Homo sapiens: one gene and its partner. The protein of the gene in region 2 interacts with the protein of the main gene of each other region in a pairwise test. Each region holds a gene or a part of one and is shown on either strand. Other genes may lie near its edges.

Evidence for each region. The genes of interacting proteins can lie anywhere in the genome.
Region 1: the proteins of TSGA10IP (region 2) and JAKMIP1 interact in binary tests that used the Homo sapiens proteins (3 or more experiments, as listed by UniProt).

Annotation. Positions count from the first base shown.
Region 1 is NC_000004.12:6,197,546-6,204,535, reverse strand, and holds the start of JAKMIP1 (janus kinase and microtubule-interacting protein 1), read left to right. Parts: upstream 1-3,986; 5' UTR 3,987-4,283; intron 4,284-6,990. UniProt on the Homo sapiens protein: Associates with microtubules and may play a role in the microtubule-dependent transport of the GABA-B receptor. May play a role in JAK1 signaling and regulate microtubule cytoskeleton rearrangements.
Region 2 is NC_000011.10:65,941,241-65,948,500, forward strand, and holds the start of TSGA10IP (testis-specific protein 10-interacting protein), read left to right. Parts: upstream 1-4,239; 5' UTR 4,240-4,435; coding exon 4,436-4,582; exon of another isoform or gene 4,583-4,626; intron 4,627-5,639; coding exon 5,640-5,776; intron 5,777-5,869; coding exon 5,870-6,588; intron 6,589-6,760; coding exon 6,761-6,908; intron 6,909-7,260.

The DNA of each region.
Region 1 (6,990 bases), on a different chromosome or scaffold from region 2:
ATGCCGCCCTCATCATGCTTCCTCCCACTTCGGAGCTGCTGCGGAGGCCAAGGGCATTTTGGGGATGTAGCTGAAGGGGGATTGAGTTGGGGATGCCTTGGTTTGGGTTTAGTGGGGTGTGTTTATGTAGGTCTGAGCCAGTCTGTGTGGGTCGAGTTGTTGCTCCCTGAACAGGCTAATGGCTCCCAGGAGTGCCCTCCTTGCCATGGCACTGGCAATGTGTGCTATGGTGCCTGGCACCAGGAGTCTATGGGCAGAGGAAGAGACATAAGGGTTGAAAATGTCATTCTTCCAATAGGAGAGGTCTGGATTTGCAGACCCTCAGAGTCACAAGGCAACTGGGGGTGTCGCATAGCCCAGGACTGCTCAGCAGGAGTCACCTGGGGCATTTAGTAAAATGCTGATTCCTAGACCCTGCTACTCTGAGGCTTCAATTCAGTGGGATGTGGAGGAGCCTGGGCATCTGCATTTCTCCTATGCCTCTCCAGGTGATGGGCGCCAGCACTGAGGTTTAGGAGGTGTTAGTCGAGTCATGTTCTGGTTTGCAATTGTTCAGTTGCTTTTCATCATGAAAATTAATAAAATCCCAGTAAGAAGCCTGGAAGAAATAGAATTCTTCCAAGTGTTAGCATTCATTTATGAAAGAATGATAGACCTTTCTCCAAATTTGAAAACAATCTCAAAAAACTACCTGAGATTACCAATAATGAGTTATGAGGCTGACAAAGTTTTCCAACCAACATTAAAATTTGTTCCCATCATTATAGGAGTACTCTGAATTATCTATTTTCTCCACAGGAAAAATATTATAAAATCATTGGCTTCCAAAGAGGTAATCAAAAATGACGAAGAAGCAAAAAATGTAAAAAAAAGAAGATATTATAAAGGTGGATATCAGGTATCCAATTAATACAATTTTATATTAGTTTTATAATGTTTTCGCAACGTTTTTGATATTTGTCAACTTAAAATATTTTAAAATTTGTTGTGATTTGTTATTATTCTAAATAAGTTTTCATTTTTGTACCAAGTCTTGTACTGGGGTTTTTAAATTCTTCTTCCTAAGGGGGACTGTAGCGGCTCCAGGTTTTACAAAACCTGGATCTACTAACCAATAGTTGCCTGTTCAAAAGTCATTCTTCTTCTTTTCCTCACTAATGGAACCCTGACTTTGTTTCAGGCAGCAATGTACCTTCAATTAAAAAAAAACATCCTTGGCCGGGCGTGGTGGCTCACACCTGTAATTCCAGCATTTTGGGAGGCCAAGGTGGGTGGATCACCTGAGGTCTGCAGTTTGAGACCAGCTTGGCCAACATGGCAAAACTCCATCTCTACTAAAAATACAAAAATTAGCTGGGTGTGGTGGTGTGGGCCTGTAATCCCAGCTACTTGAGAGGCTGAGGCAGGAGAATCACTTGAACCCGGGAGGCGGAGGTTGCAATGAGCCAAGATCACGCCATTGCACTCCAAACTGGACAACAGAGCAAGACACCATCTTAAAAAATAATAACAATACTCCCAGCCTCCTCTGAAGCCAGGGCTGGCCATGAGACACCGTCCCAGCCAATGAGATAAAACAGAGCTCTCTGGGGAGAGTTTTCAGGAAAGCGGTGAAGTGGAGCTGACCTAGTGTGGGTATGCCTTTTGTTCTTCCCCTTCTTGACTGGAATAGTGATGAGATGTCTGGGAAGAGGCAGCCAACTTGCCACGTAGAAGACATTTTGAAAAAGAAAATTACATCCTGAGGGTGAAGGAGTGAGAGAGGATAAAGTGAGGAACAGCTTGCCTTTGCATTTCTTGTTAAGAGAGAATAAAAATCTGTTTAAGCCGCTGTCTAGTTGTGATCCCGATTACTCACAGCCAGACATAACCCTTAATCTACACACATGTATCGAAGTACCACCAGCTGGGCTTTTTAAACAACAGAAATGCACTGTCTCACTTCTGTAAGCTAGAAGTCTGAAATCAGGTGTCAGCTGGTCCACGCTCCCTATGAAGCCCTGGGGAAGGATCTGTCCCAGGCCGCTCTCATGGCTTCCGGGGGTTTGCTCCCATCTTTGGCATTTCCTTGGCTAGCTGATGCCTCGACCTGATCTCTACCTTCATGTTCACACGGCATGCTCCCGTTGCTTGTGTCTCTGTATCCAATTTCCCCCTTTTATAAGGATAGAAGGCAGACTGGATTAGGAATCCAACCTACTCCATTGTGACCTCATCTTAGCTAATTACATCTACAACGACCCTATTTCCAAGTAAGGTCATATTCTGAGGTCCTGGGAGTGAGCACTTCAACATACGAGTTTTTTTTTTTGAGGGGGTGGGTGGGGGGAACACAATTCATCCCAGGATACCTGGGCATTGTCCCTGATTGTCCCTCCCTCCCTCCTGTCCACGTCCAAGCCGTGAGCATGTCCTGCCAATTCTGCACCCAGATTGCTCTGATGCGCTGATACTTCACTGTATCAGCGTGGAGGAGGCCCCCACACTGCCTCCTTGTCCCCACTCTTGACTACTTCAGCCCATGCCCCAAGGGCAGCCAGGGCATCTGCTAAAGATAGTCTCACATCTGCTCACAGATATCCTAGTTCCTCCTGACCCCCTGAACCTTAGAGGTCTGCACTTCCTCCTCTTCTGAAGTTAGGCATGGCCATGTGACCTGCTCTGGCCAATGAAACGTGAGCAGAAGTGACGAGAGTCCCTTCGGGGAGGAAGCCTTCAAAGCCAGCATAATTGTCACCTTTCATTCACATTGCTGCACCATGTGGGTGCTCGGCTGGCAGACAGCCCCAGCAGCTTGGGCTCCCAACCACTCTGATGAACAGAGCCCCATTGACCGAGGCAGGATGTATGATGTGGGCAAGACACACCAGGGAGATTTGGGTTTGGTTGTTACTGTGGCTAACATAGCTTATCCTGACTGATGCACTTTAAAAAATATCAATCTGACAATGGTCCATGGGACCACCTTCCAGGTGAGACAGTCTCCAAACTCTCGCCAGCCTGCAAGACCTTGCAAGTGCTGCCCCTCTGTGCCCCCGCCCCCCATCTTCCACACACTCCCTCTCACCATTCTGTGGCCCAGATACTTTTATCAGATTCTCAAATATGTCCCGTTCACAGCAGTCAGGGTGTTCCCCCATGCTGCTCCCTTTGGTGGGTGCTCTTCCCTGCCTTCTCCTTGCTAGAAAGTAAGCTCTGGTGGGCAGCCGCTTCCTCTCTGCTGTTCACTGTGGTGTCCCCACATCTTAGTGACTACCTGGCACACAGCAAGTGCTCAATAAATATTTGTCTAATGACACTGAATGAATGTTTGCCCAGCTGAGTCCTGCCCCTCCCAAGTCTCAGCTCGACAGCACATCTTTCATTTGGCTATGACCTGCTGATGTGGCTTTGCTGGGGGCAGCCTGGGCTGGTGGGGGGAGGCTCCCTAGGCTGGCATCCGCCCAGCTCTGCCGCTTGCTGGCTCTGCCGCCGTTAGCGTGCGCTTTAACCTCTGACCTTCAGACCTCTCATGCGTACAGAGGGGGACATGGATCTCCGGGGTCGCTGCGTCTTCCTGACCACTGACGGCCAGGACGGCCCCAGCCCCGCTTTACCTGCAAGCCCCACTCCAGGCTCGAGCCCCCGAGGGCAGGGATAGCTTCCCGGGTCCCGAGGCTTGACCAGAGCCTGAAAGCTCCTGCCGGGGGTTGCTCCGACTCAGCGAGGCGCCAGGCTGCCCGGCGCGGCTGGGGGCGCTCAGCGCCGGGACCCCAGCCCTGCCCCGGCCGCCCGCTGGCCCAGTGCGCACGCTCCGGCAGCTCAGCTCCCCCTCCCACGGCGGCAGGAGAGCTCCCGGCATCTGCCCGGGGCGGGGGCGGGGGCGGGGCGGGGCGGGCGCCGCGCCCTCCTGCCTGACTGGCAGGAAGACAGACCAATCGGAGGGGCTCCCCGGGGGGAGGGGCGGTGCCGTGCCTGAGCCGGGCGCGGGCGACCGAGGGAGCTGCAGCCACCCGCGTGCGGCACGCGCCGGCCGCCTGCCCGGATCGCGGCCACCAGTGCCGCGGCCTCTCGACTCCCGCCCCGCCGAGCCGCGCGCGCGACTGCCATCCTCCTCAATTGCTTTTTACGATTTTTTTTGTGCATGCATTCATTTTCTGTTCCGTTTTGTCCTTTTTAAGGCGGTGGCGGCGGCGACAGCGGCGTAAGCTCGCAGCGGGGAGGGGGCGGCCGGAGGATGCGGCGCGGGGCTGCGCTCGCTACGTCCGCTGCTGCTGCCCGGCTCGGGCCTGAGCGCCGAGCAGGTGGGTACAGGTGCGCCGGGGGGCGGGAGGCGAGCGCTGGCCAGAGGGAACCCGTGGACCCGGCGACCGAGGGGCGGACCTGGCGGCAAGGGACGCGGCGACCGGTGCCGCCCCGCCCCATCGTCCATCTCCCCCTCCTCCGGCCATCGCGCCCCCTCTGGGTCCCCCTTCCACTCTCGCATCCCACCTCAGTGGTCCCCCACCCTTCCATACCCATCCCCCACTCCTCTTCAGACCCCCTTGCAAAATCTCCCAGCCGCTGCGTCGCTTCCCCCAACACCCCCTCCCGGTCCCGCCCCCAGCCCCCAGCTCTCCTTCACGCCACCCCTATTTCCACTCTTCTCCGGATTCCGCCCTCAAGCCAAGGAGCGGGAGGGGGACCCACCCGGTGCCTGCCGGAGTGGCGCGGGGGGTGTGGCCGGCCCGTCCCCTCCGTGTCTTCCGCAGGGTAGGTCACAGTCCCCCAGATCTCCGCCCAGGTGGCAAAGAAGATGGAGCTGGGGGCCGCGCCCCGGCGGCGCGGGGCCCGAAGGCGAGGCCGCCCAGCCCGCACCCCACCCCACGCACGGCACACGCCGCCGCGGCCCCTGCCACGCACACCCTCGCGCTGCTCCGCCCACGTGGGCGCCGGGGAGGAGGCTCGAGAGATGGGAAGAAAGGCTGGCACCCACCCTCCTGCCGGGCCGGCGCGCCCTGGGCGCACTGGCCTCCGGAGATGGCGCGCAAGGATTGACTCTCGTGGTGCCAGACACCTTGCCGGGCGCCCTGCGTCGGGGCCAGCGGCCTCGCTGGCCTGCGTCAGTGCGCTGCGGCCTCGCCTCCCAGCCCCTCGGTCCTTCGCTCCATCCCCCCTGCTGTGGGCTCCTGAGCATCCGGCCTGGGCAGCCCAGATAGAGGCCGCTTACGAGGCTGGCGCTTCTTTTCGCCTTAGAAGCATCCCGCTCCCACACACCCCAGCTCGCCGGTCTCCTGAAGGCTGGGCCAGCCTCGGCTCTCCGCCAGCCTCTGCCCGGCTCTCTGAGCTCCAGCGATACTGTATCTAACCGCCAGCCCTCCTCCGCCGCCCGCCCCATCTGCGCACACTCGCAGGCACACTGTCCTTGGCCTTTGCCAGTGCTGTGCTCTCTCCGCGAACGCCCTAACTTCAGCTGGCCAGCTCCTTGTAGTCAGGGAGATCCCCTTGCCCCTCCTGAGCTTTCCTGGAACGTGGCGCTGTCCCAGGATGCTGTTACCATCTGATGGCCTCTGCCTTCCAGAGCAGAGGAGGAGGTGGGGAGGAGGGCAGGGGCAGCCTCAGCCCCTCTCCCAGGGCTCCACCCACAGTGAATGTTGGGCATAGCAGGGCCATCCCCCCTAAGTCAGAGTAACCCGCTGGTGTGGAGGGCGAGGCCATGGGAGGAGCTGGCCCTTCCTGTAGCACCCTGGGCTGGTGGGTGGTGGCTCCACTAGCTGGGATGGGCAAGGAGGAGGGACACATTCGGGGATAGAGTGGGGGAATTAGAATCCTTTCCTAGCAGGGCATTTCCACCCTCCTGGAGACCTGCAGCTCTGCAGAGACTGATGTTGTAGCGCACAGTGGAGGCTTGTGGCTTGTTGCAAGATTTTTGTTGCTGTTGAGGTGTGTACCGGTCTGTAATGCTGAACATCTCTGCTCTGGAGTCTGGGGTAATTCTTATCTGTAGTCTTTTTGCAGTAAGCAGCTCCCAAAGGCTCACAGTGTGGACCCAATGCATGAGATGACTGGCATTTTCCTCCTTCACAAACCACCCATGACTCCCACCGCCCCCACGACCTCACCAGTTCCTCACATCCTGGCTTCCCCAGCCCATCTCTCCCCTCTCCCTGCCACAATGTCTCAGCCACGCCTGCTGCCTCTGTGTTGCGTAGACATGTCTTCACACTTGGGTTTTTCCCCCACATGCTTCTTTTTCCCCCCGTCTAAAACAATGCTCCCCTCCCTTGAGTATGTGGAGAACGATTCATGATTAAGCCCAGCTCTCAGGTTCCATCAGTGTGATTTTCCCAGACTCTGCCGGAAAGATTGTGTGCTTCTCTCATTTGTGTTCTCAGAACTTTTTATACACATACAGTGTGATATTTGTTTGTGTAGTTTTTCCTTAAGCAGATCTTGCCCACTAGAGACTGGGGACACGGGACACAGTGAGGTGGCCTGAGAGATGGTCCCACTTTGGTGGGGGCTCTGTTTTCCTGGGGAGGTGACCACACAGACACTGCCCGTGCTGTCAGAGAGTCATGTGCAGGGAGAGATGGGGACAGGCGGCCCGGCCAGGAAGGCTGCACGAGGAAGTGGCAGGACCGTGGCCCCACTCTCTTGGTGTGTAAGGGTGGATTGGGCTGTGGGACAAGTGGCAGAGGGAACAATTTCTAATGCTTAAGCCAGCAGCAATTGCCACTGCAGGCTATGGCTATCTGTTTAACTCCTCGAGGGTGGGACCTTGTGTCTCTTCAGGCTCTGAGCCAGACTGCCAGGGTTCCCATTCAGGCCCTGCCTCACTTAGCTGTGACTGGGCAAGTGCCTCCCTGCTGGGCTTTCTAACTAAATGGGGGCTTCCCTTGGGGAGTCTGAGGATGACTGCAGTGTGTCCCAGTTCTGCTGGGTCACTCCTCTCCCCATAGTGGCGACGGGATCAACCTGCAGGGCTTCTGAAGTTGGACTTGCCTGTAGTTTATCCCTTGTCATTGTGTG
Region 2 (7,260 bases):
GGCAGCTGTCCCTCTCCTGCAAGAGGAGGAGGAACTGGCAGAGGAGCTGGGGAAGAGCTGGCCACTGACCTCATGTTAGTGGGAGGGAAGGCATCGGTGATTTTGGCAGGTGCAGGCTCACAGGGTGGTGGGGGTGACAGCCTGCCTGGAGTGGGTTCAAGAAAGAAAGGCAAGGGGGAAATTGACCTTGCCCAGTGAAAACTCTTTCAGAAGGCTTTGCTGCAAAGGGAACACAGAAATGGGGCAGTGTTGAAGAAGGGGAAGTGAGTCAAGAAAGAAGGAACAGTAGTGCTGATGGAAATGATGCCAGAGAGATGAGACATTGCTGATGCAGGAGAGAGTGGGAGGACGGCCGGAGCCACATCGCTGAGCAGGCAATCAGCAAATGAATGAATGTGTGTGAAGCGGTGATAAGAGAAGCAGAGCAAATGGTGGTGCCTATTAGGGACTTAGGGGATCTGGGCAGGGAGGGCTTCTTTGGCAGGTGTCATTTTAGCAGAAACCTAGAGGTCCTGAAGGAGTAAGCCATGTGGATTCTGGGGAGAGAGCATTTCAGGAAGAAGAAACAGTCGGTGCAAAGGGCCTTAGGGCAGACTGGCTGGCGTACCGAAGGGAGAGTGTGGTTGGATCGGAGTGAGAAGGGATCATGGTGGCACTTGTGAGCAAACACCTGTGAAACATGCAGGACCTAGTGGGCCAGTAAGGACTTTGCCTTTTACTCAGCGAGACCCAGGACCCATCACAGGCGTGATGGACTCTGTTTTTTTTTTTTTGTTTTTTTTTTTTAGTTAAGGTCTTGCTCTGTTACCCAGGCTGGAGTGCAGTGGTGCAATCAGGGCTCATTCTGCCTCCTGGGCTCAAGTGGTCCTCCTACCTTAACTTCTCTAGTAGCTGAGATCACAGGCATACTCCACCACACCTGGCTAATTTTAGTATTATTTTTTGTAGAGAAGGGGTTTGCCATGTTGCTCAGGCTGGCCTCGAACTCCTGGCCTCAAGCCATCCGCCTGCCTCAGCCTCCTAAAGTGCTGGGATTACAGGTGTGAGCCACTGCGTCCAGCTGGGCTCTATTCTTCACAGAATCACACTGGTTGCTGAGTAGAGAATGGTATCAGGACAAAAGCAAAAACCGGGAGGTTGGGTGTGGTGGCTCACGCCCATAATCCCAGCACTTTGGGAGGCTGAGGCAGGTGGATGGCTTGAGGCCAGGAGTTCGAGGCCAGCCTGGGAAATATAGTGAGCTCCCATGTCAATAAAAAATAAATAAATAAGCAAAAGCCGGAGATTAAGCGTTACTGAAATGATCCAGAAGAGAGAGGGTGTTGGTTTGGAGAAGTGCTGGATTCTGCATGTATTTCAAAGGTGGAGCTGGTAGGGTTTGCTAAGGCATTAGGGGCAGAATGTGAGTCAAACGAAAGAGTCAAGGATCATGCCAGGGCGTTGACCTGAGCAACAGGAATCTCAGACATGCCCCTGACTGGGATGAGGCAGGCCAGTAGTCTGACCTTCAGCATGTCAAGTTGAAATGCTTATTTATCCAAGTGGGGATGTCAGATGGGCCACTGGATATTTAAGTATGGGAGAGGTCAGGCTGAGATACGTAAACCTGGGGACGGGTGGAAAACAGCAGGTGCTGGCCTGGCGCAGTGGCTCATGCCTGTAATCCCAATGCTTTGGGAGGCCGAGGCAGGCCAGGAGTTCAAGACCAGCCTGGACAACATGGCAAAACCCCATCTCTACCAAAAAATATAAAAATTAGCCGGGCATAGTGGCGCGTACCTGTAGTCCCAGCTACTCGGGTGGCTGAGGTGGGAGGATCACTTGAGCCTGGGAGGTTGAGGCTGCAGTGAGCTGTAATGGCACTACTGCACTCCAGCCGGGGTGACAGAGTGAGACTCTGTCTCAGAAAGCAAGCAGCAGGTGGCTTTTAAGGCCATCAGACTGGATGAGCTCACTTAGGGAGGGAGTGTGGTAAAGGAAAGAGGTCTGTATGCACCTCATGAGAATATCAACCTGAGAAACCCAGACCTGCCCTCTGCCAAGGAAGAAAGTGGCCCAGAGTTCTGGACTGTCCAGGAAATCACCTGGGGTTGAGGTCTGGAAGGGGCTCCGTTTCTGAAAGTGAAGCTGCCTACATGTGCCTTCCACTGGGCCCCAGGTGTGGGAGAAGGATGGCAGCCCCCTAGAAAGAAAAGAGTTTGCATATTTTGGGTGGCAAAAGAGCTTCACCCGGAGCAGCACTATTTAGGATATTTACATTGGATGTGCTCATTGTGAGGTGCCACTGGGATGGAGTCTGAGAGCAGAAGAGGAGCCACAGGGCCACAGTCTGAGAAAAATCCTGCCTCTATGGCATCTTCCAGGATAGTCTGCTTCCCTGGGGCCACATCATTGATTAATTAATAACAGCAACACGGCCCGGTGCAGTGGCTCACACCTGTAATCCCAGCACTTTGGGAGGCCAAGGTGGGTGGATCACTTGAGGTCAGGAGTTCAAGACCAGCCTGGCCAACATGGTGAAACCCTCTCTCTACTAAAAATACAAAAAATTAGCCGGGCATGGTGGCACATGCCTGTAATCCTAGTTACCCGGGAGGCTGAGGTGGGAGAATCGCTTGAACCCAGGAGGCAGAGGTTGCAGTGAGCCGAGATCACATCACTGCACTCCAGCCTGGGCAACAGAGCAAGACTCCATCACAAAAAGAAAAAAAAAAGATAATAAGAATAACAGCAATGCTAACATAGCAGTTCCCATGAGCCATGAGGATGTTCTGTTTGTATCTGCATAGTGATTTAATCCTTACCACTACCCTGGGAGTAGATCCGATTATAACCATCCCCTCCCCATTGCCTATGAGAAAACAGGCACCGAGAGGGTACGGGACAAGTGGAGGAGCTGGGATTTGCACCCAAGCGCTTCCTCTATGCTCTTAGCCATGATGCTCTGCTGCCTCAAAAGAACGGCCAGCTAGTGTTAGTAATAATAACATTTACCGATGTCATCGTTTGGGGTTTCATGTAGTCCTTGCAACAAACCTATGAGCTGGGCCCGTGATTCCAGTTTTGCAGAGTGGGGAGTTGGTCACAGAGCTAGTGAGACCAGGCCTCCAGCCCAGTTGGTCCGTCTCCAGGGCCTCAGCTCAGCACCACATCCCTGTACTGCAAGCCTCAGTGGTCAGCACCAGGCGTCCCATGGGGACTTAAGATTCCAAGGCTTTTGAGCACTGCTAGAAGTTTGGGGTAAGATCTTTTACTTTTTTTATATTAAAAAAATATATTTTTTTGAGATGGAGTCTCACTCTTTCGCCCAGGCTGGAGTACACTGGTGTGGCCTCGGCTCACTGCAACCTCCACCTCCCGGGTTCAAGAGAACCCGGAGAGGGAGAGCCTCAGCCTCCCGAGTAGCTGGGATTACAGGTGCCCACCACCATGCCCGGCTAATTTTTGTATTTTTAGTAGAGATAGAGTTTCAATCCAGGTGGGAGATGGGGTTTCACCATGTTGGCCAGGCTGGTCTCCAACTCCTGACCTCAGGCAATCCGCCCACCTCGGCCTCCCAAAGTGCTGGAATTACAGCCACTGCCCGGCCTGGGGTAAGCTTTCAATGTTGTAACTCCCTCCAGAACCTCATGGCCTATGAAGATGGCCAGGTGGGCCTGGGCCCAGGCTCTGAATGGCCTGCTGCCTCTCTCCTGGACACAGCATTCAACTTCCTGGCTGGGGCTGGGAGTGCAAAGATTTGTTTATTTGTTTCTTTTTTATTGAGACAGAGTCTCACTCTGTCGCCCTGGCTGGAGTGCAGTGGTGCAATCTGGGGTCGATGCAGCCTCTGCCTCCCGGGTTCAAGTGATTCTCGTGCCTCAGCCTGAGTAGCTGGGATTACAGGCATGCGCCACCAGGCCTGGCTAATCTTTTTTGCATTTTTGGTAGAGATGGGGTTTTGCCATTTTGGCCAGGCTGGTCTTGAACTCTTGACCTCCAGTGATCCACCTGCCTCAGCCCCCCAAAGTGCTGGGATTACAGGTGTGAGCCACCACTCCCAGCCTGGGAGTGCAAGGATTTAAATAAAATCTTGTGAAAGTTCAGTTTGGCTCCTTCAGGGACTCGGCCAGGCCGGGGGGCAGCACAGGAGACAGGCTGACTCCCCTGTACAGATGGATGGGGAAACACAGGCAGAGTAGGGACAGGGGACTTACACCAGGTCACACGGGGAGCCTGTGGATGAGGCAGAGGCAGGACTTGGGCCTGGGTCTCTGCGCTAAATGACTCCTGGGCATCCTGCTGAACTCTCTCCCAGAAGGAGATTGGCCTCACATACCCCACTGACCCCTTCCTAGCATGCTTTTTGCCAGACCCATTGAGACTGGCTGAGGACTGGTTGCCATAGAGATGGCCTGTTAGGCAGTTCTACGGTGCGGATGGGGGATGGGGCAGGATGGGGCAGGACACCGATATGCTAAATACCTACCAACAGTTGGTTAGGACCCCGTCGGTGCGACCAGGGCAGGACGTGCGGCTCCAGGCTCCAGGAACCAGAACGGGGCTGCTCAAGCTGCTGTCGACCGTCTCTCAGGACAAGCAGGTGAGGGAGGCCCAGTGAGGACACTTCCAGCTGCCTAGAGCCAGGTGGGTCAGGGAGGCCTGGGCTGGGGAGGCCCTTGAGAAGCCACAAGACCTGAGCTGAGGTCCAGATGAAACTCAGGGAGGCAGGAGTGGGACAGGGACCACAGGGAGGCCTAAGGGCCTTGGGAGAAGCCGAGGGATGACGCCCAGGAGTGACTCCCAGGGATGATGGGGCCATTCAGGGAACACTGCGGAAGGAGCAGGTTTCAGGAAAGATGAAGACCACCTTGATGAAGACCACCTTGGTTTCTGCCTTGGCTGTAGCAGGTCCAGGGCCCAGTGGGACATTTGGGAGTGCAGTCCAGGGCCCAGAGGTGGCCTAGCGCAATGGTGACAAATCTGGGCTCCACCACTTCCCAGCTGTGTGACCTCAGTTACTCAGCCTCTCTGAGCCTCAGCTTTCTCCTCCACATGATGGAGGTGATAGTGAGTACCGGCCTCCTAGGGTCCTTGGGAAGGTTACGTGTGTTTATGCATGAAAGTCCTGAGCACACAATAGGTGCTCAGCAGGTGGCAGCTGTTGCTATTTTAATATGCAGAACGGAGGTGGTGCTCGGTCGGGTTTTTTTGTTTGTTTGTTTTTTTGAGATGGAGTTTCACTCTTGTTGCCCAGGCTGGAGTGCAATGACACAATCTCGGCTCACTGCAGCCTCCAACTCCTAGGTTCAAGCGATTGTCCTGCCTCAGCCTCCCAAGTAGCTAGGATTACAGGCGCAGGCCACCACACTCGGCTAATTTTTTTTGTATTTTTAGTACAGATGGGGTTTCGCCATGTTGGCCAGGCTGGTCTCGAACTCCTGGCCTCAGGTGATCCGCCCCCCTTGGCCTCCCAAAGTGCTGGGGTTACAGGTGTGAGCACCACATCCAGCCCTGTTTGGTTGGTTTTTATGGTAACGAGGGCCCAGAGGGACCCAGCCAGGCCCAGCCAGGTGCACAGAGGGAGCACCCGGGTGAGGTGCAACACAGTCCAGGAGGCTGCTCAAGCTGGCTGCTCCTCCCCTACTGTCTCTGCCCAGGGCTGCCTGGGGAGTGGTGATGGTGTGCCAAATCAAGACCTGCAGCAGAGGTCTCAGAGCTCAAGGCAGACAGCAAAGAAGGACCGCAAGCCCAGGGGCCAGAGCAAGAAAGGACAGGGCTCTGAAGAGTCTGAAGAGTAAGCAGCAGTGGGATGGGTCAGGAGGCTGTTGGGGGTCAGGGCCCTCTGGGGGCTGGCGCCGACCCTGACCCCCACCCTTTCCTTCTTCAGTCACTTCCCGCTTCTTCCTCGGAAACCCTCCTTCCCCTTCCAGTGGGCCTGGGAGAGCATCGCCACAGATGTCCGGGCTGTGCTTCAGCCAAGCTCCCCAACCCCTGGCCACCAAGCCCTGCCCATGCCCTCCTCGTTCTCCCAGCGTCAGTCCAGGCGCAAGTCCACGGCCAACCTCCCAGAGGCCCATGGCTGCTGCTGGAAGACAGAGGCGCAAAACCTGAAGGCGAGACAGCAGCTGGGAGCCTGGGGCGGTGTCTCCATCCCTACTGGCAAAGGGGAGCTAGGATCAGAGCCCCCCAGTGGTCTCCAGCTGCCTGGGAGGAGGCCAGGATCAGGATCGGCGTCCGACAAGCAGGTCCAGCTGCAAAGCCTGGGTGCTGAGGAGGCCGAGAGGGGTCTGAGTTCTGGGGTGCTGCCCCAGCGCCCCAGGAGGGGGTCGATCTCAGAGGAGGAGCAATTTTCAGAGGCCACAGAGGAGGCTGAGGAGGGAGAGCACAGGACTCCCTGCAGAAGGAGGGCTGGTTGTCAGAGAAAGGGGCAGATTTCTGGAGAGGAAGCCTCCGATGAGGGAGAAGTGCAGGGCCAGAGCCAGGGGAGCAGCCCCAGCTTCAACAACCTCCGAAGGCGACAATGGAGGAAGACAAGGGCCAAGGAGCTGCAGGGGCCATGGGACCTGGAGAAGCTGCACAGGCAGCTACAGAGAGACCTGGACTGTGGTGAGCGTGGGGCTCAGAGCCTGGATTCCCCCGAAGCTACACCGCAGGGAACAGGGAGCAGTCAGGGAGGCAGGGGCTCAGGCAGGCTGGGCTGTGCTCTGGGTGCTGGGGGGCGTTGCCTGGTGGGCTGAGAGGGAGAGGGCAGCCCCTGACTTGGTCCCACTGTGGGCAGGCCCCCAAAAGCTGCCCTGGAAGACTTTGAGGGCTGCCTTCCAGGCCTCCAAGCGGAATGGAAAGGCCTATGCCTCGGGATACGATGAAACTTTCGTGTCTGCCAACCTCCCTAATCGCACCTTCCACAAACGACAGGAAGCCACCAGGTAAGAGGGAAGAGAAGGGAGTGGGAGCCCAGAATGAGAAGTAGAGATGGAGCCACTTCTCCAAGAGATGCTTAGGCATTTGAACTCTCATTCATTTCTTTATTTATCCATTCACCAAACTTTTGGATCATCCATCCATCCATCCATCCATCCATCCATCCATCCATCCACCCATCCATCCATCTATCCAACTACTGATAACATCCACTCAACCATTCATCCATCTCTCTCAATACCTGGCCAATTATCTATTGATACAACCACTTTTATTTCCCATCTTTTGTTCCATCCATCCATTAAATTATTAACTAAGTGATTAATGCAACGTTTATTATCTACTCATGGGCCCTTA